4 separate regions of the Homo sapiens genome follow, and regions 1, 2 and 3 are each linked to region 4. Evidence: fine-mapped expression QTL. A gene starts in region 4. Each other region holds a variant in brackets. All regions are shown on one strand. Distances are from middle to middle. Region 1 has its middle 76 kb from the start of OR13H1. Region 2 has its middle 47 kb from the start of FIRRE. Region 3 overlaps MBNL3 (muscleblind like splicing regulator 3). Region 4 holds the start of RAP2C (RAP2C, member of RAS oncogene family).

Evidence for each region. PIP is the estimated chance that this variant, and not a neighbour inherited with it, causes the effect.
Region 1: its variant is fine-mapped to the expression of RAP2C in sigmoid colon (GTEx, PIP 0.99).
Region 2: its variant is fine-mapped to the expression of RAP2C in whole blood (TOPMed, PIP 0.93).
Region 3: its variant is fine-mapped to the expression of RAP2C in whole blood (GTEx, PIP above 0.99). The same link has a PIP of 0.9 or more in cerebral cortex.

Annotation. Positions count from the first base shown.
Region 1 is chrX:131,465,011-131,470,170 of GRCh38, reverse strand. No RefSeq gene overlaps it. Among named protein-coding and RNA genes, the nearest start is that of OR13H1, 76 kb to the left of the region's middle. The variant T/C (reference allele first, on the strand shown) is at 2,382.
Region 2 is chrX:131,875,538-131,880,697 of GRCh38, reverse strand. No RefSeq gene overlaps it. Among named protein-coding and RNA genes, the nearest start is that of FIRRE, 47 kb to the right of the region's middle. The variant T/C (reference allele first, on the strand shown) is at 2,611.
Region 3 is chrX:132,395,809-132,400,968 of GRCh38, reverse strand. All of the region lies in intron 3 of MBNL3 (muscleblind like splicing regulator 3), which reads left to right. The region is part of intron 2 of RAP2C-AS1 (RAP2C antisense RNA 1); the gene reads right to left. Among named protein-coding and RNA genes, the nearest start is that of MBNL3, 91 kb to the left of the region's middle. The variant T/C (reference allele first, on the strand shown) is at 2,188.
Region 4 is chrX:132,216,915-132,222,074 of GRCh38, reverse strand. It overlaps RAP2C (RAP2C, member of RAS oncogene family), which reads left to right and starts at 2,628. Exons shown (of 6, transcript NM_001271186.2): 1 at 2,628-2,705; 2 at 3,734-3,843; 3 at 4,063-4,159; 4 at 4,269-5,079. The coding sequence starts at 4,807. RAP2C-AS1 (RAP2C antisense RNA 1) reads right to left here and starts at 3,568. Exons shown (of 3, transcript NR_110410.1): 1 at 3,238-3,568. RefSeq lists enhancers at 2,257-2,306, 2,637-2,706 and silencers at 4,139-4,188, 4,199-4,638.

The DNA.
Region 1 (5,160 bases), 750 kb after region 4:
TGTCATTTGCGACAACATAGATGAAACTAGAGAATATTATGTTACACTAAATAAGCTAGGCACAGAAATAAAAATACCACATGATCTCATTTAAATGTGCAATCTAAAAAAGTGAAACTCATAGAAAGAAAGGGTAGAATGATGATTACCAGAGGCTGAGAGAGGGCAATAGGCGAGGAAAGGAGATGTGTTGATCAAAGGGTACAGAATTTCAGTTAGACAGGAGGAATAAGCTTTAGTGATCTATCATACGGAATGGTGATTATAATAAATAATAATGCATTTGTATATTTTAAAACTGCTAAAAGTAAATTTTAAATGTTTCCATTATGAAAAAAATGAGAAGTATGTAAGGTGATGGATTTGTCAACTAGCTTGATTTAGTCATTCTATAATGTAAATATACATCAAAACATCACGTTGTAACCCATATACAATATATACAATTTTTATTTTTAATTAAAAGTTAGAAAATTAAAATTAAAAAACGAAAGTAAAAAAGATACACAAATAACAAGCATATGAAAAGATGCTCAATATCAAGTCATCAGGGAATTGCAATTTAAAATGAGATACTTATTATACAGATATTAAAATAGCTAAAATTTATAACACAATACTGAATGCTGATGAGGATGTGGAACAACAGTAACTCTGACTGGGAATACAAAATGGTATAGTCACTCTGGCAAACAGTTTGGCAGTTTCTTACAAAATTGAATGTATTCTTAACCATATGATCCAGCAATTGTATCTCTTAGTACTTACCAAAATTAGTTGTTGAACTTGTTCCCCTTACATTTATACAATTTTAAAAAAAGAAGAAAACTGCTTACACAAAAACCTGCACACAAATCTTTACAGCATGTTTATTCATAATTGCCAAAACTTGAAAGCAACCAAGATGCCTTTCAATATCAATAGTTGAGTGGATAAACAAACTGTGATACATACATACCATAGAATATTATTCAGCAATAAAAAGAAACAAGATGCCAAGCTACTAAAGAACGTAGATGAATGTTAAGAACGTATTGTTAAGTCAAAGAAATCAATCTGAAAAGGCAACACACTATGATTCCAACTATACAGCACTATTGGAAAGGGAAAAGGATGAAAACAGTAAAAATATAAGTGGTTGCCAGGCTTTGGAGGAAAGGGGTGGAGGAATAAACAGATGGAGTAAGGAGGATTTTTTAGGGCAATAAAACTATTCTGTGTTATACTGTAATTGTGGATACATATCAGTATACATTTGTCAAGATCCGTAGAATGTACAACACTAAGAGTAACTCTAATGCTAACTATGAACTTTAGTTAATACTGCATCCATATTTATATATCAATTATAACAGATGTACCATACTAATGCAAAATGCTAATAGGGGAAATTATCTCAGGGGGCTAGGGAAGTATATGGGAACTCTCTGTACTTTCTGTTCAATTGTTTCTGTAAACCTAAAACTGTTCTTAAAAATAGTCTATTAATTTAAAAACATATAATTTAAAAACAACACTTATATGGCATATCTGCAATTATTCTAGTGTTCAATATTTCTAAAGCAAGTATTACTAATTACCCACTATAGTAATTTTAAAAAAACCTCAACAAAGCAATTATAGAACATCTCATTTAACGCAAAAGCAAAACAATGTAATTTCTTGGTGAATTTACAGAGAGAATACATATGCCAATGATTACAATGTAACTAATACATAGTCATAACCAAATACATGGTCATGCTGTATAAGGCTGTTATTCATAAGCCGCTTAAATATTGGAAGATTTCTACTAAAAATAATGGTTTGGATTTTGGGAGAGCTGATCTGAAGCCATTAGCACTGACAGTATTTAGACGGCAGGGACAGTGTCTTTTGAAATTAATCTTAGTTTTCTGCAGTAAAATCAAATCATCTGCATATAGAAGAATGTTTATCCTTCTTTTTTTATGACAGAGTTTGTGAATCCAAATTGTCCAAAGTGGTCTCCAGTCATCAAAACAAATTTTAAAAGAAAGAGTGGCCAAAACACATGCCACTTTATTCAAAATTGTTCTGTATCTCTTTAAAAACTGTGTATCTAATGACTCTTCGTGGTACTACAGTAGAGGTTCTATATAAGAATCACTAGCCAGCATTCCATACTGTATTCATATACTCATACAACTTGTTTCCATACATCAAATATCAAATAATAGTCAATAAGAGATACAAATGATCTTATGATTTTCCCAGTGGATAATCCTACAAGATGATAGAAATATAAAATTTCTCATTAGCATATTGCCATTCTGAGATCCTACCTGCCCATCTTGTAAACATTTGCTTGAGAATCCAAGATTTGCATTTTGTCAAGGAGACTGGCATGCATTAATGATGGA[T/C]GGTTAATAAGGTCTATCATTTGGGTGGAGTAATGAAGTTGCCTGTTTAAAATAATTTAATAGTCTATATTCTGAGTTCAAAAATGAGACTTTAGTAGTACAATTGTAAGAGTAAACAAATTGCAAGTATTCGAGACCATTATTCAGAGTAATATTTAAATAGTTTGGAGTTAAGAATTTTCATTAGGTGCTTTTCAAAATTGGAACTATAAAATCCTTTGTACAACATGAAAGAGTACTACCAATACAGTGTAAATTAAGAGGATTGAATAATCTAAAATCAAGGGAGTCTGTGGCCATACACCAGAGCACATTGAATGTGCTGTGTGGAGGCTTTCTCCTCACGTTTTAAACCAACAGAATTAAAATTAGAAGAGTAAACAACCAGCTATATTTAGTCATTCTTGAGGTGATGAAAATTTACACAGGACCCTGTCTAGTAACCATTACACCTCCTGGTTTCTTGAGCTATGGATAATAGGACTCATGATGAGGATGATCACTCTGTAAATGACAGATTCCACCTAGCCCAAGATAAGCTATACGTAGAATTGAGTCTTTTTATTATTATTATTATACCTTAAGTTCTAGGGTACATGTGCACAACATGCAGGTTTGTTACACTCCCACTTCTCCCAACCCACAACAGGCCCCGGTATGTGATATTGCTGGCCCTGTGTCCCAGTGTTCTCATTTTTCAATTCCCAACTATGAGTGAGAAAATGCGGTGTGTGGCTTTCTGCCCTTGGCGATAGTTTGCTGAGAATGGTGGTTTCCAGCTTCATCTACGTCCTTACAAAGGACATGAACTCATACTTTTTTATGTTTGCATACTATTCCATGGTTATATGTGCCACATTTTCTTTATCCAGTCTATCATTGATGGACATCTGGGTTGGTTCCAAGTCTTTGCTATTGTGAATACTGCTGCAATAAACATACGTGTGCATGTGTCTTTATAGTAGCACGATTTATAATCCTTTGGGTATATACCCAGCAATGGGATGGCTGGGTCAAATGGTATTTCTAGTTCTAGATCCTTGAGGAATCACCACACCGACTTCCACAATGGTTGAACTAGTTTACAGTCCCACCAACAGTGTAAAAGTGTTCCTGTTTCTCCACATCCTCTCCAGCACCTGTTGTTTCCGGACTTTTTAATGATCGCCATTCTAACTGGTGTGAGATGGTATCTCAGTGTTGTTTTGATTTGCATTTCTCTGAAGGCTAGTGATGATGAGCATTTTTTCATGTGTCTGTTGGCTGCATAAATGTCTTCTTTTGAGAAGTGTCTGTTCATATCCTTTGCCCACTTTTTGATGGGGTTGTTTGTTTTTTTCTTGTAAATTTGTTTAAGCTCTTTGTAGATTCTGGATATTAGCCCTTTATCAGTTGGGTAGATTGCAAAAATTTTCTGCCATTCTGTAAGCTGCCTGTTCACTCTGATGGTAGTTTCTTTTGCTGTGCAGAAGCTCTTTAGTTTGATTAGATCCCATTTGTCAATTTTGGCTTTTGTTGCCATTGCTTTTGGTATTATAGTCATGAAGTCTTTGCCCATGCCTATGTCCTGAATGGTATTGCCTAGATTTTCTTCTAGGGGTTTTTTTTTGTTTGTTTGTTTGTTTTTTTGAGACAGAGTCTGGCCCTATCACCCAAGCTGGTGTGCAGTGGTGCTCTTCTAGGGTTTTTAAGGTTTTAGGTCTAACATTTAAGTCCTTAATCCATCTTGAATTAATTTTTGTATAAAGTGTAAGGAAGGGATCCAGTTTCAGCTTTCTACATATAGCTAGCCAGTTTTCCCAGCACTATTTATTAAATAGGTAATCCTTTCCCCATTTCTTATTTTTGTCTGGTTTGTCAAAGATCAGATGGTTGTAGATATGCAGTTTTATTTCTGAGGGCTCTGTTATGTTCCATTGGGCTATATCTCTGTCTTGGTACCAGTACCATGCTATTTTGGTTACTGTAGCACATTGATTGTGTATGCTGAGACTTTGCTGAAGTTGCTTATCAGCTTAAGGAGATTTTGGGCTGAAACGATGGGGTTTTCTAAATATACAATCATGTCATCTGCAAACAGGGACAATTTGACTACCTCTTTTCCTAATTGAATACACTTTATGTCTTTCTCTTGCCTGATTGCCCTGGCCAGAACTTCCAACACTATGTTGATCAGGAGTGGTGAGAGAGGGCATCCCTGTCTTGTGCCAGTTTTCAAAGGGAATGCTCCCAGTTTTTGCCCATTCAGTATGATATTGGCTGTAGGTTTGTCATAAATAGCTCTTATTATTTTGAGATACGTCCCATCAATGCCGAGTTTATTGAGAGTTTTTAGCATGAAGGCTGTTGAATTTTGTCAAAGGCCTTTTCTGCGTCTATTGAGATAATCATGTGGTTTTTGTCTTTGGTTCTGTTTATATGCTGGATTATGTTTATTGATTTGCATATGTTGAACCAGCCTTGCATCCCAGGGATGAAGCCCACTTGATCATGGTGGATAAGCTTTTTGATGTGCTGCTGGATTTGGTTTGCCAGTATTTTATTGAGGATTTTTGCATCAATGTTCATCAGGGATATTGGTCTAAAATTCTTTTTTTTGTTGTGTCTCTGCCAGGCTTTGATATCAGGATGATGCTGGCCTCATAAAATGAGTTAGGGAGGATTCCCTCTTTTTCTATTGATTGGAATAATTTCAGAAGGAATGGTACCAGCTCCTCCTTGTACCTCTGGTAGAATTCGGCTGTGAATCCGTCTGGTCCTGGACTTTTTTTGGTTGGTA
Region 2 (5,160 bases), 340 kb after region 4:
TTCCTAGTTACCAGCTTCTCCATAATCAGACTTGTATATATGAAGCAAAAAGAAAACTCAGAGAAGTCACCACCTTGTCATTCTTTGCATGTCAAGGTCCCTAGCTGATCTGCCTTCTTCTCTTCGCCTTTGAGCATCTTTGTACGTTTATTTTATACATATTGCCCAGGGCTTTTCATTGTACTTAGTAGGGGGAATAGAGAAAAATGCAACTATTACATCTTTAAGATATTGAAAGCTTTTACACAAAGAGATGGCCTGAATGGAGAGGTAAATCTGACTACAGCATGATGGATAGATGAAAGCACAGATGACTAAAGTTAGAGAGACCAGTTAAGAAGGCATTGTGGTAAGTCAGGTGAGAAGTAATGGTAACCTGAAGTAGAATAGTAGCAAAGAAAATGAGGAGAAAAGTGCATACTCATTCATTTGTTCAATTATGGATTGATTCATTAATACAGCAATATTTATCAGCAACCTACTACATGCCACATGGTGATGAAACAGTAGAGAAAAATATACTCTTCCTACCTTCCTGGAGGTTTTTTTTGTCTAGAATGTAGTTTTTTGTAAAATTTTAGGACATACAGTTTACAATAATTATTGATAAGTTGGATGTGGGTGGTCATGATTGAGAGTGAGAAATTGGAAGCGATATCAAAGATTTTGCCATTGTCAACTGTGTGGGTTGCAGTGCCATTCACTGAAATAAGAAACATAAGGGGAAGAGCAAATATTAAAGGAGTAATGGTTACATTTTGTACATGTAGATTTTGAGGTGCCTACAGACATCAAATGATCATTGAAACTACTGGAAATGGATACTTTCTCAAAGAGAGAGAATACAATGTGAAGAGGAGAGGGCCCAGTAGCAAGTCTTGAGTAACTCCAATGTTTAATGACTATATTGAGGAGGAAAGCATCTGAAGGAGAACATGAATGAGTGTTCAGAGAAGTAGGACGAAAAGATAAACCTAATACCTTAAATTCTCAAATCAAAGCAGAGAATGGAGAATCAGAGTCTCTGGCAGTCTTAACTAGAATCCCTTCATTAACCTACCTATATTAAGGGCAGACATGGCTGAGAAGCAGGACAAAGGCCTGATTGTAAGAATTCAAAAGTTGTAGCACTGTCACAACCTCACCAAGTTATGCTAGGTTAAGGGCAATAGTAGGAAAAGTGTGGGACCATAAGCTGTGGGATGAGGACATTTGGGCAGATCCAGAAGCAGTAGCAATCCACCCCAACCCATTAATGTGAGGGTGCCATTCTTCCTTTGCATGAAGTCTTTTCAATGTCTTCACCTGAGGAAGTTGCCTCACAAAAAATATTTATTCTTCTCAGAATCTATTGTCAGTATCCTTTATTGAATGTAGGATTTAAAATTAGGTCCCAATATACCACAGAAGAAATGCAAGATGTGATCAGGGAGGAGATAATGTATGTGTTAAAAGAGTTGCAAGGTTTGCTAATTTATGTCAGCAGGAATTTGAAGGGCAGATATGGAAATGTATACAAAGAGTATTAGACCAACAAGGAAAAACATGAAATTGTATTTGGTTGAATTTATTGATATGGGTGTATTTATCTGAAATTCTGGATTTAATTTGTTAACTTGAGCACTTGGGAGTATTGCTAACTGTCTTTTGACTTGGTTATTTAAAATCAATTGTAGCATACAGTCAACTGGGTTAAGGTATCAGACTTTCTTAGTATAGTTTTAAGAAAGGAACACAAAGATTTAAGAAGAAAGATGGGAAAGTCACAGATCTGTTTCACGTAACTTGCTCAGTCACGCCTTAACTACAGCCTTTGGGAGAGACCAGAAGACAGTGTCTTCACGAAGGCATTACAAAATCCGTGCTAAGAAAGATCTATGGTGGTTTCCCTCCATATCCCAAGGTTATTGTGGTAGTTATCAACATGGAATTGGGAGCCCAGCTTTGAACAATAATAATTATATCCCAGAGAAGTGTGGCCAGGTGGTGTGCTTAACCATCATTGACAAGATGGCCAAATTACCACAATAAGGCACATATAGAATGTTTTCTGGCCTGCAGTGATCGGTGTGGTAGCTAATTAATCACAAGATTCAGAGAAATGAATGAGATAGGTAGCCTACTAAGGTGCAATTAATCTGTGCAAGAGGAAACATTTTAGTAGAAACCTGACTCAAGTTGCCATAGTAAGAAATCATAATGGTCTCTTATTTGGTTCCCAGCCTATTCCTTTTTACAGGCCTAGAGATCCTTGATTGTAGGGGAGGCAATGCCTCTTTTTGGAAGAATCTTACAATGCAACCACAAGTCTATACAGGTATATGCCGGAGACAGGGCGTGTACAGTTCCAGAACACTATAAAACAGTTAATATATCAATGTGGCAAGTCACACATACTTTTTGGCTTCCCAGTGCATATAAAAGTTATGTTTAAAGTATACTTTAGTCTATTAAGTGTGTAATAACATTATGTCTTTAAAAATCAATGTACATACCTTAATTTAAAAATACTCTATTGCTAAAAATGCTAATGATCATCTGAGCCTTCAGCAAGTCGTCATCTTCATGTTGGCAGAGGGTCTTGCCTCAATGTGGATGGCTGCTAACTGA[T/C]CAGGGTAGGGTGGCTGTGGCAATTTCTCAAAATAAGACAACAATGAAGTTTGCCACATCGATTGACCCTTCCTTTCATGAAAGATTTCTCTATAGCATGTGATGCTGTTTAATAGCATGTTACACACAGTAGAACTTCCTTCAAGACTGGAGTCAATCCTCTCAAACCCTGCTGCTGTTTTGGCACAAGAGGCCCAGCTCCCAGCCTGTCTCAGCTTTTGACCTGCTTTCCTCACTAAGCTTAATCATTTCTAGCTTTTGATTTAAAGTGAAAGATGTGCAACTCTTCCTTTTACTTGAACATTTAGAAGCCATTGCAGGGTTATTAATTGGACTAATTCCAATATTGTTTTATCTCAGGGAATAAGGGGGCCAGAGGAGAGAAAGAGAGATGGGGGAATGGCCGGTTGGTGGAGCCGTCAGAATAAGCACAATATTTACTGATTAACTTCAGTGTCTTATATGGGCATGCCTGGCACCCCAAAACAATTATAATAGTAACAAGAAAGATCTCTGATGACAGATTACCATAAAAGATATAACAATCATGAAACAGTTTGAAATATTGTGAGAATGACCAAAATGTGACACAGAGACACAAAGTGAGCACATTCTGTAGGAAAAATGACACCAGTAAACTTAACCAATGCAGGGTTGCCACAAATCTTCTATTTGTAGCAAACATAGTATCTGCAAAGTGCAGTAAAGCAAAGCGCCACTAAACAAGATGTGCCTGTACAGTGAATCTTCCTTTAAATCTCACCCGGAAAGAAATGCAACCCTTTACCAGGGCTACTATGCACTGTGAAAAGAGAAATTTCCAGCTCTTCCAAGAATCATCAGGTACCGTTTATTAACTTGGAGATCCCAAATACCATCATGGCCTACTGATCAGAATGGTAGTTTCTGAAATTCAGGGGATAGACCGAGCACTGGCCCAAGTTTATTTAACGTTGGATCCATTGGTCCCACAGATGCACTCTGTAATGATTTTCCCAGTCCTTTGATATATAGCAGGAATAAGTATACTTAGAAACTGTCAGAATCACCATGGAATGAGGGCTCTTGCAGTAGAAAGGGCCGAGTGAAGATCCTATTAACTTGTTTCTCCCCTCAATATCCTCACCCAAATAATAAATCCAAATCAATACCTTATCTTTGGGGGGAGCTACAGAGATCAGTGCCACTACCAAGGCCTCAAAAAATGCATGGATGTTGATTCTTATAACAACTTCATTTAATTTACCTGTTTGTCAAGTGCAAAAGTCATGTGGGTATTATAAAAGACTGTGGATTATTATAAACAAAAGGGTGATGCAATTCACCACTGCAGTTTCAGACATGGTATCTTCAGATTGTAGCAAACTGAAACAGCTCTGCCACTTTGTTTTGCAGCCACTGACCAAGCAAATGCATCCTTTTAAATTCCCATCAGAAAAAATCATCAGAAACAGTATATCTTTACCTGTTAATGTCAACAGCACACCTTCTCAGTCTTACATTGACCAAAATCTATTTTCCTGCTCTGTCATAATACAATCAGTCCAAGGGAGTCTTGATTATCTCAACATTCTAGAAAATATTACACTGGTCTATTACACTGACGTAATTATGCTAATTGAACTGATACGGAAGTAATAATTACCTTAGATACCCTTACTAAGGCACAGATGTCAAAATGTGGGAGATAAACTCCGCGAAAGTTCAGCTGTCTGGGACCCTGGTGATTTTTTTTATATACTTTACGTTCTAGGGTACATGTGCACAACGTGCAGGTTTGTTACATATGTATACATGTACCATGTTGGTGTGCTGCACCCATTAACTCATCATGTACATTAGGTATATCTCCTAATGCTATCCCTCTCCCCTCCCCCCACCCCACAACAGGCCCTGGTGTGTGATGTTCCCCTTCCTGTGTCCAAGTGTTCTCATTGGTCAATTCCCACCTATGAGTGAGAACATGCGGTGTTTGGTTTTTTGTCCTTGCAATAGTTTGCTGAGAATGATGGTTTCCAGCTTTATCCATGTCCCTACAAAGGACATCAACTCATCCTTTTTTATGGCTGCATAGTATTCCATGGTGTATATGTGCCACATTTTCTTAATCCAGTCTATCATTGATGGACATTTGGGTTGGTTCCAAATCTTTGCTATTGTGAATAGTGCCACCATAAACATACATGTGCATGTGCCTTTATATCAGCATGATTTATAATCCTTTGGGTATATACCCAATAATGGGATGGCTGGGTCAAATAGTATTTCTAGTTCTAGATCCTTGAGGAATCACCACACTGTCTTCCACAGTGGTTGAACTAGTTTACAGTCCCACCAACAGTGTAAAAGTGTTCCTATTTCTCCACATCCTCCCCAGCACCTGTTGTTTCCTGACTTTTTAATGATCGCCATTCTAACTGGTGTGAGATGGTATCTCATTGTGGTTTTGATTTGAATTTCTCTGATGGCCAGTGATGATGAGCATTTTTTCATGTGTCTGTTGACTACATAAATGTCTTCTTTTGAGAAGTGTCTGTTCATATCTTTGCC
Region 3 (5,160 bases), 180 kb before region 4:
ATTACATGTTTTGTAAATGATTTTTGCAAAATTTTCAAGTTAGGAAAGACAAGCATTATGTAATTATAAGGTTAATATGCTCTTAATATAATTACAACAGTCATGATCATGTGAACTTCCGCATTGAGGTTGACCAAATCATATCACAGAAGTGCCTGGAGTGCTACCATGCCATGATCATCTGGATTTTACTACATTTTCTGAAAGATTAGACAAAATTTTACTTTTAGGTATATCAACTGAAGCCTACTGTAATCTGTTTGTTCAACTAACATTGTTTTTAAGGTGTACTTACCCTGAGACTAACATGAGGGGTTTAGGGATGCTCATTTGCATGGTTTCCTTCCAAAACCCTGAGAGGGGTCCTAGCAACGTGTTTAAAATGTGTTTGTAAAATTTGCAAAATATATTCGTGTGTTTCATTCTTAAGGCTCCACTTCCCCACCCAGTGGTCTAAGCTTCAGACCCCACATATCCTAGATTTGCTCCTCATTGCAATTACTGGTCCAAAGTAGAGTAGTTATTCGGGCCTTTTGCTAATAAGACTGTGTATGTCACATAGCTTAAAGCTTCTTTTACGTTAAAACAAAATAAATCCCCTAGCAGTCCCTTTGCTGCTTTGCCCCATCTCTGTTAATAGACACTGTGAAATCTGCTTTTTTCAAAAGTTGAATGAAAATGCTACACTTTTGCAGCCAAACAGAGGACACTTGTACATGATATCTTCTTTATTTTATTTTATTATTATTATACTTTAAGTTTTAGGGTACATGTGCACAATGTGCAGGTTAGTTACATATGTATACATGTGCCATGCTGGTGTGCTGCACCCATTAACTCATCATTTAGCATTAGGTATATCTTCTATAGTGTCCAGTTTCTTTGATAGTCACAAATCTCAACATTCTCCCTTTATCATCCTTTATATATTCCCGTGAGATAAATTACATGTAACCTCCTCTATTTTGTGTCCTTCTCCTCTGGGGCTGGTTAGCTCAGTTAGTTGGAGCCTGGTGCTAATGAGACCATGGTGGCCTGTGAGCTTCACTGTTCGTGGTCACAGTGTAAGCTACAGCCAGCTACCTTGAGATTGCTTGCTGTTGATCACAAATGAGGTGAAGGCTGGGAGTTTGGTGGGCTCTGTGAATTTTTTTTTTTTTTTTTACCTGCAGGTTGGTATGGCTCAGTAATTTGTCAATGAGAGGAGACCTTATATAAAAACCTGTGGCTGCCCTACCACCTGATAATTAAAGTGGTACCCCCAAGCATTTCTAATTTGCCTTAATATCCTGTAATCATCTGTTAAATATTCATTTACACCCTTCTTTCCGTGGTCTTCTCTCTTGAACCACTCTGGATACCAGTCACATTAGCAATTCATTAATCACCTGGATTATACACATTGTGAATTACTTTGTGTATAAAAAGGTGTGAATTACTTTGTGTATTACAAAGTGTATAAAAAATTACTTTTTATACACTTTGTAATAAAGTTACATATTTTTATCTATAGTATCACTAAATCACTTTTTTTTAGAACTCTTAATTAGGTACCTTCTAGTATGGATTTAGCCACTCCAATTTTAAAAATACATACACATATGGGATTCATGTATGTACATATGTACATATGTATGTATAAAATACCCTGTGCTTTTCATACTGTTTGATCTAGCAATTCATATCTTTATCAAAAGACAGCTTAGGACTAGCCATCTGCCTAAAGTCTTCCTCAGTGGAGAACAAGACTGAAGGATTTATTCAATTTCTTTGCCACCATTTTTGAAACTACTTTTACTTCTTTTTGCACTCTGATTTTTAAATTGGGTTGATCTATTTAGTAAATCAAAAATTAATTAATGGTTTAGGAATCCCTTTTTATTGAATTCAGTAAGTATTGAGCATATACTCTGTGACAGGTATTTAAATGAGTAAAGGGTGGATAAAAAGATGATCAAGAAACAAACTCTACCCTCTAGGAATTCGTTATGTAACAAAAGTAAGATGTTGGATGAATATTTTCTGGTCCCCTTAATTTCTGATTTGTACCTGATTCTTCATATTTTTGTAGCTTTGGGCCTTTCTTTTTTCAACATAGAATTATCTTTCTATTAGCCATGCAAGGTTCTGTTTTGGTTTGTGTTGTTTTGATGGTGGTGGTGGTGGTGGTTGTGGTTGGTCAAACCC[T/C]TGATAATTTTAAACTCTTAGCCTACCTATTTATCTAACTTTCACTGACATGTTCATAAATAGTCTCCAGGTTTCCTGTGGGTTCCTTGCTTTGCTCAGTTCTTCCTATTTATCTCCCAAAAACCCACATTTTGTTTATACCCTTTGTTAAAACTAGATAACCACTTAATTCTTTGAACTACTTCAATGAGGTATGATTGACACACAAAAGCTGCACATGTTCAATGTATACAAATTGATGACTTTGGAGACAAACAGATGCTCATGATACTATTACTACAATCCATGCCACAAACTTGATTTTTTAAAAAATAATCTTTGTTTCCTACTAGAATACTAAAGTTAATTGAATTGCCATTATTATTACACGGTGGTCACCAACAAATTTTTAGGTCAATTCCTGTTCACCTCCTCAGGAACAATGTCAAAGTTACCCTGCTTATAAGTGTCAATCATTTGCTCTCTTCCTAGGTGATGTGCTGATCTGTGTTTAGGTACTCCTTTATGATTCCTGGCCTGCTGTTGTATTTCTCCTCCCAGCAAATATGGGTAGCTCTGAACCATGACTTGTGTTCTCATTTGTGTTATTCTTTATACCTCTTATACTCACAATCACCTATTGATCTTTCAACTAACCTGCCTGCCTTCAATGGTTCCTCTTACTTGGAGAATTCTCTGATTAATAAGATCAGAAAATCCAGGTCTAGGTGAGGACAATGGTTCACTTTTGACCCATGAACTTTTTTTTTCTTAGCTCTCTCTAGAGCCATGGGGACTTATTCATTAACAAGTACGATTAGTACTTAAACACCACTATCAGCTTGCATCTGTTTTTAAAGTTAACTCTCAATTATTGAGAAACTAATTAACTAGTCTGGAGGTTATGTGGGTCTCCTGCAGCCTGCATTTTGGCCACTTCAGTCCCCACGGAACATTACTCAAGGAGTGTGGAAATGACCAAGCAAATACTGTGAAAGAGAGATTATTCAATTGTACTCTGTGTGAAAGTGAAGTCTGATGGAAACTAAAATTATGGATTTCAGTGCATTTTGGGATTATCTAAAGATAGAAATATGCATGATGACCGTAAAAAGAGCCTTCCTTTTATATTATATAAATGCTTGCAAATGAGCAATAAAATGAAGATATTATGACGCTAGTAAAATTTATGAGTGCTATTTTTCTTGTATTAAAATTGGGTCAACAAATTGTTACCAAATGTTTACCCTTCTGTAAAAGAAAATATCTAGTCATTCAACTCTAGACAGGAACTCAGAGATGGAAGGCCCCGATTATTCTGTTGACCTTAGGCCAGGATTTTGAAATATTTTACATTCATCCAACAATAATTGTAATTGATCTTGGATATTTTTGAGGTAACTACAAATAGATCTAGGCTATTGAGGAGACACAAAGATTGATTTGGCATAACATTTAATTTTCATTTATTTATACTAGCTTGAGAAATAACCTGTTAAGTCACTGTTCCTAAAGTGTGTGTAAACTAGACATTTATTTGAGGCATAGTTTTGCATTGAATTGCATTGCCTCAGAATCCTTTAAGAGCAATCTGTGGTGGCTTTTAAAATTTTTACCTTTACAGGATTCCAACTACTATTTCCCCATTCTTAGTCACGGAGTAGTGATTGTTCTATAAACAAATAGTTAAAAATCCTAATCCTAATATTAGTAACTATGTAAAAGAACATTTTAGTGAATACCTTAGTATTGGTTTACAAAGCCAAACATTTTCAATTTGTGGAATCTTGCTACAAATACTAAATTCATATACATATATATTCATATATATTCATATATATATGAATATATATGAATATATATATGAATGTATATATGAATATATATGTATATATGTATATATGAATATATATATGAATATATATGTATATATGAATATATATATGAATATATATGTATATATGAATATATATATGAATATATATATGTATATATGAATATATATGAATATATATATGAATATATATATGTATATATGAATATATATATGAATATATATATATATGAATATATATATGAATATATATGAATATATATATGAATATATATATGAATATATATATATGAATATATATATGTGAATATATATGTGAATATATATATGTGAATATATATGAATATATATATGAATATATATAGGAATATATATAGGAATATATATAGGAATATATATAGGAATATATATAGGAATATATAGGAATATATATATGAATATATATATGAATATATATGAATATATATAGGAATATATATAGGAATATATATGAATATATATAGGAATATATATATAGGAATATATATGAATATATATAGGAATATATATATAGGAATATATATGAATATATATAGGAATATATATATGAATATATATGAATATATATAGGAATATATATATATGAATATATATGAATATATATGAATATATATTTGGTGCTTTACTCCTGAAAGCGTTGGAGAATTTCATTTTTTGAAATCATTTAGAACCAAGGTCGGTGAACTTTCTTGTGAATGGCTAAATATAAATATTTTAGGCTGTGAGGTTCAAGATGCAAAGTTGAGGGTATTATATAGGTACTTATATAACAAGAGAGGAAACAAATATCTACAATTTTTTGTAATACAGCTCTACTAATGAGCACAATGAAATTTGTGGATGGACACTGGAATAAGAGTTTCCTATAATTTTCATGTTTCACTAAATATTATTCTCTTATTTTTTTCAATCATTTAAAACTGTAAAAAACATTCTTAGATTGCTGGCCATACAAAAACACAGGCAGGCTGAATTTGGCTTATGGGCCCTAGTTTGCAGAGCCTTACTCTAGAACAGAGATTCTTAACCAGTAAGTAGTTCATAACCCCACACCAGGGGTGAGTGTCGTGGGGTCCTTGAACTTGCTGAGATCACAAGCAACATTTTTTGCATACATGAAT
Region 4 (5,160 bases):
GATCTCTAGAGAAGTCCTCCCATTCCCCTCTTCCCATATTCAAGCCTTTGGAGTAGAAAATTATTACTTGAGCAGTTTCTATTTATTGAGCAATTAATATTTGGAAGGCTAAATGCTTTGAATGGATTTCTCATTTATTATTCTATGAGTTAGATACTGCTATTATGCCCAACTTTACAAATGAAGGAATGGAGGTGTAGCTTGCAAAAGGGCAGTGTTAGGACTGTCTGGCTCTGAAGTCCAAATTCCTTCTAAAACGCTGCCCTGCATTTGTTAGTCCTGAAAATACCCTAAAGCAAGTAACAATCACTATAAAATGCTAAAATTAGTAATACCTACTGTGAGGTTATAAAATGATACGGTCATACTGCATTGGTGGGAATGTGAATTGGTGTGACCTTTCTGAAGGACAATTTGGCAATACTTACCAGAAGAATTTTAAGTGCAAGTGCCTTTTGTTTCAATTATTGAATTACTAGAAATTCACCCTAAACATTAACTGACAATGATATATGTCCAAGGCGTTTAGTGCAAAAACCTAGAAGCAATCAGTGTCCTTCAAAGGGGAGCTGGCTAATTAGCTTATGATACAGCCATGAAATAAAAATTAAGAAGGCCAGACATGGTGGCTCATGCCTTTAATCCCAGCACTTTGGGAGGCCAAGTCGGGAGGATCCCTTGAGCTCAGGAGTTGGAGACCACCATGGGCAACATAGTAAGACTCCATCTCTACCAAAAAAATTAAATTAAATTAAATTAGCTGTGTGTGGTGGCATGTACCTGTAGTCCTAGCTACTCGGGAGGCTGAGGTGGGAGGATCCCTTGAGTCCAGGAGGTTGAGGCTGCAGTGAGCTATGATCATGCTACTGCCCTCCAGCTTGGGTAACAGAGGGAGACACTGTCTTAAAAAAATTAATTAATTAAAGTTTAAAAAGCAAGGTAAAAAATAGTGTGTACAGTTGATTACTTTTGTAGTACAGTAATTTTTAAAAATATATATAGAAGGTAGATTGATACACTGACATATGAATAATGTTCCCCCCTGAAAAACATAAGAAGCTTTTAACAATAAATATCTTTGTGAAGAGTAACTGAATTATTATTTTCGTGCCACTTGCAGATATTTGAGCTTTTAAAATTTTGTTACCCCCATGTTTGCTATTTTTTAAAAATTAACAATTCATTAAATCTTTTAAATAAAAACCAAATAGCATTTATTGAGGCTTTATAATGTGCAAGGGACTGTGCTAAGCACTTTACCTGTAATACCTCATTACATTTTCACGTTAACTTCTTATCTCCTTTTTACAAGTGAGGAGTTAGAGGCTCAGACAAGTGAAATCACTTGCTTGGGGACACAGAGCTAGAATGTGGCGGAGCTGCAATTTTAATGCACCTCTGTCTCATTTCAGAGCCTTAGCTCTCAACTGCCAGGCCGCACTCTTCTGCTTGCTCTTTATACCCTCATTGCTTAATGAGAGTACACTAGCAAACAACAGGAGTCTAATGAGATAATGTATGTGAAAATACTTTTCTAAGTATAGAGATGTTTGGGGAGGGCAAGCAAGGGTAGGGAATTTGTTTAAATTGGGCGGACCTGTCCACTGACCCCTAGACAGTCAGGATTTTTTTTTTTTTTTTTTACAAAACCAAGATCAACAACTTTCTTTTGTTCCTCCTTTAAAAATATTATAAAGTTATATTTACTTCCTTTTTCCCAATTATTGTTTATAAATTAAAATATGGAGAAATAAAAGCCATTTCATAATAGTCCTCACCCATAATTACTTTGTTTCAGATTTGAATGGCTATGTAACTATTACACACCTGCGTTTTACATAAACAGTAGCAACTAGACATTTGTTCAGTATCTTGCTTTTTCAGCCCTACAATATATCTTGGCCATCTTTTTATATAAACACTTACAAATCTGCTTTTCTCTTTTAAAGTAGCTGCATAATATCCTATTCTGTGAATACAGATAGGTAGGTAGGTAGGTTGGTAGATAGATAGATAGATGATAGATAATAGATATAGAGAGCTATGAAACTTTTAAAAATCACCTACTGAAGGACATTTAAGCTTCTTCCAATTGTTTGATTTCCTAATCAATGCTGTAATGAATACCCTTCCTAAGAAAGTTTAGAAGGATCTTTAGACTGAGTGTAATATTTGTCCACTGTAGTTGACGAGAGTGACCCCACAGGACGCTGTACTGAGGGGAGGAGTATGTTTCACTGCGTGGAGAAACAAAGAACTCTCTCCTAAGCATGACCAACACATTCAGAGATATTAGAATTGCCAACAGGTGGGATGACCTGAAAAAGAACTCCTTGCTTTGACAGTTTAGTAATAGAGCAAAGACTTGCCACGATTGCTCAACACTGGCTGGATCAGAAGAGGAATTTCCAGACTCAGTTACAAGCACGGCTGGTGGAGGGCTGTGAATCCCACCAGACAGTCTGGAGACAGCTAGGCAGGGAGATGAGCAGCAGAGCTCCAAATCAGGCAACAGCACGTGTGAAAGGAGCAGTGACCTGTGGGGAAACTCATAACTCACAGACCAAACCCCTTCCAGCAGAGGGCAGTGCCTCTGATACGACACAGGGCCCAGGCCAGCTGGAGCCAGAGCTGGGGACTTCGCTGGAGAGATGGCACCGGCCTGAGGTCAAGGAGAAATTGAACTAAACTCTCCTTTGAAGACTGTAAGTGACATTGGGGAATACTCAGGGAGGGACAGTGGGACCTCACACTACTATGATTCGCCTGTGTTCTAATGTCCAACAATTTAGGCTGAGTAATAAATCTCTTTATAGAGTTTGGCCATTTAGGGCTTGTAAGTAAGGGAATTTGGAGTCATTTTTGCTAGGCTGGCCACTGAGTCTCGCAGGTTTCTGGGTACATGCTTGAATTGAAAAGAAAGTGACACACCTAAAATACAGCCTAGACTCCTGGCCCTGGGGCTCTGTGGATCCGACACAAAGTTTACAAATAGAAAGCTAGCAAAGGGAAAGATAGTCGGAAGTAACAATTTTATCTAAAAATAGAAACTTAGAATCTAACACCAGAGTTACTACTTGCTTTTGAATTTCAAAGACTACATAGGATGGCCTTTAAAACAAAACTTCAGCATGTAAGAGCCAGCCAAGCAAATTGTTATACATAATCAACGATTAAAATAAATTAGTCTTTAGGCCTAAACCGTTTCCAATCAAATCTTTCTTGAATATTGGTTACCTTTTCTGCCGTGTAGTGGTTGGAATCAAATGAGAACATAGCTGAGCAGAGTACCATAAAGTCTACTTCTAATGCTGCTGTTTTCGAGCCTTGTGATTTTTTTTTAAGTGACTTTAGTATTCGCTGGTAAAGTCAAGGCGGATCTACCAGACGGTAAAAGTTCTGTGTGTTTGTCAGGCACGGCTAAGTAAAACGCACTGCATCTGAAAGTCTAAGGGTAGTTTGCATGCATCTCTCAGCAAAATAGCAAGTGGAAGAAATACCAGCAAGGAGAATAAACTTTCTGGGCTGTTTGATTTCCCCTGCAACTTCTAGTCCAGGGATGTTTGGCGTTCTCCCGGTCGCTAGATTATTAGCCCGCAGGTTCCGCACCGGCCAGGGAGCCGCTCAAGTCCTAGGGCCGGGCGGCTGGAGGTTGCAGGTCGGAGGGGCTTCTACGGGTTTGGGGGTGGGACGGTCCGCGGCAGCCGCGGGCGGGTAAGGACTGACGTCGCAGGTTTCCAGAGGCCCGTTCCCGAAGCCGGAGTCCCGACCCGAAACCGTCCCCGGCCGGCTCGCTCGCTCAGCAGGGCGCGGCTCCAGCGCCACCCGGCTCGCCCCGAAGAGGTGGGACTTTCCCCACCGGAAGTGATCCCGTCCAGTCTCGGGGAACTGGGGCACCTCAGCCAGTGTGTCAGGGAAACCCTTCCGGGTGTGTGCTTGGTGGGGGTGGGGGTGGGGGTGGGGGTGGGGGTGGGGGGTGGGTGAGAAAAAAAAGAGGTGGGTTCGCCTGGAGTCCCTGCGGCCGCCGCGGAAGGCCCCCGCTTCTTTCCCCGCGGCGAGCAGCAGCGCTGGGGCAGCGGAGAGACAGAGGAGCCAGCGGGTGGCCATGGCCTTGGCGTGACAGAGCCTCCCCGGCGGCCGGGCGGGTGCGGACGGCGGGGTAAGCGGCAGTAGCTTGATCCGGGTGGGAGTTGGGGGAGGCGGCGGCCGGCGCCGCAGGTTCGGGGCGGGGGTCAGCCGGGTAATGTGCGTCCTTCTCCCCTTCACAGGCCGGACGACCCCCGCGGGAGCCGGGGCCCAGAAACCCGCCCGGGCAGCGGTAACTGGAACGGAGCCCTCAGGCCTGAGCCGGCTGGGCTGCGCGAGCAGGAAGCGGGGTCCCTGGGCCCCTTTGTGTGAAGGGCGGGGGAGGAGTGCCGGGCAGCCCCGGGCTGCGGGCTCCTCCGACGTCCGCCTCGCCGCAGGGTCCCCTCGCCGCAGCCCCCACCCTTTCCCTCCCGGGGGCACGCGCCTCCTCGCCACCCTCGCCGGGCTTTTCCCAGGCTCGCCCTCCTCCCCACGCCCCCTGCTCGGGCTGCAGTTCCTATAGGAAGGGCATTACCATCCCTTCCCCACCCTCCCCGACTCTACGCTCTTTCCCCTCCCCCTCCTGTAACTTCCTCTTCTTCCCCGGTTGGGCCCTCTGCTCCTCTGCACTCTCCTCCCCAGTTCGCAGATTTCCGCCCACCTTCCGCCTCGTCTAGCCGCGCCACAGCTAGCGGGGTGATCTTTCCCCCCCTCTGGTAGGAGTTGGTGAAGGTGAGACTCATGAGGGAATACAAGGTAGTGGTGTTAGGGAGTGGAGGGGTTGGCAAATCTGCCCTTACTGTGCAGTTTGTCACTGGGACTTTCATTGAGAAATATGACCCCACCATTGAAGATTTCTACCGCAAAGAGATCGAAGTGGACTCTTCCCCCTCCGTGCTGGAAATTCTGGACACCGCAGGAACTGAGCAGTTTGCCTCCATGAGAGATCTCTACATCAAAAACGGCCAAGGTTTCATCCTGGTTTATAGCCTGGTTAATCAACAGTCTTTTCAGGTAACCAAACCAAGTCTTGTAATTTGTTAGAAGGGGGTGTGGTAATCCGACATCGACTTCTGGGTTGCTTGAACCGTGCAT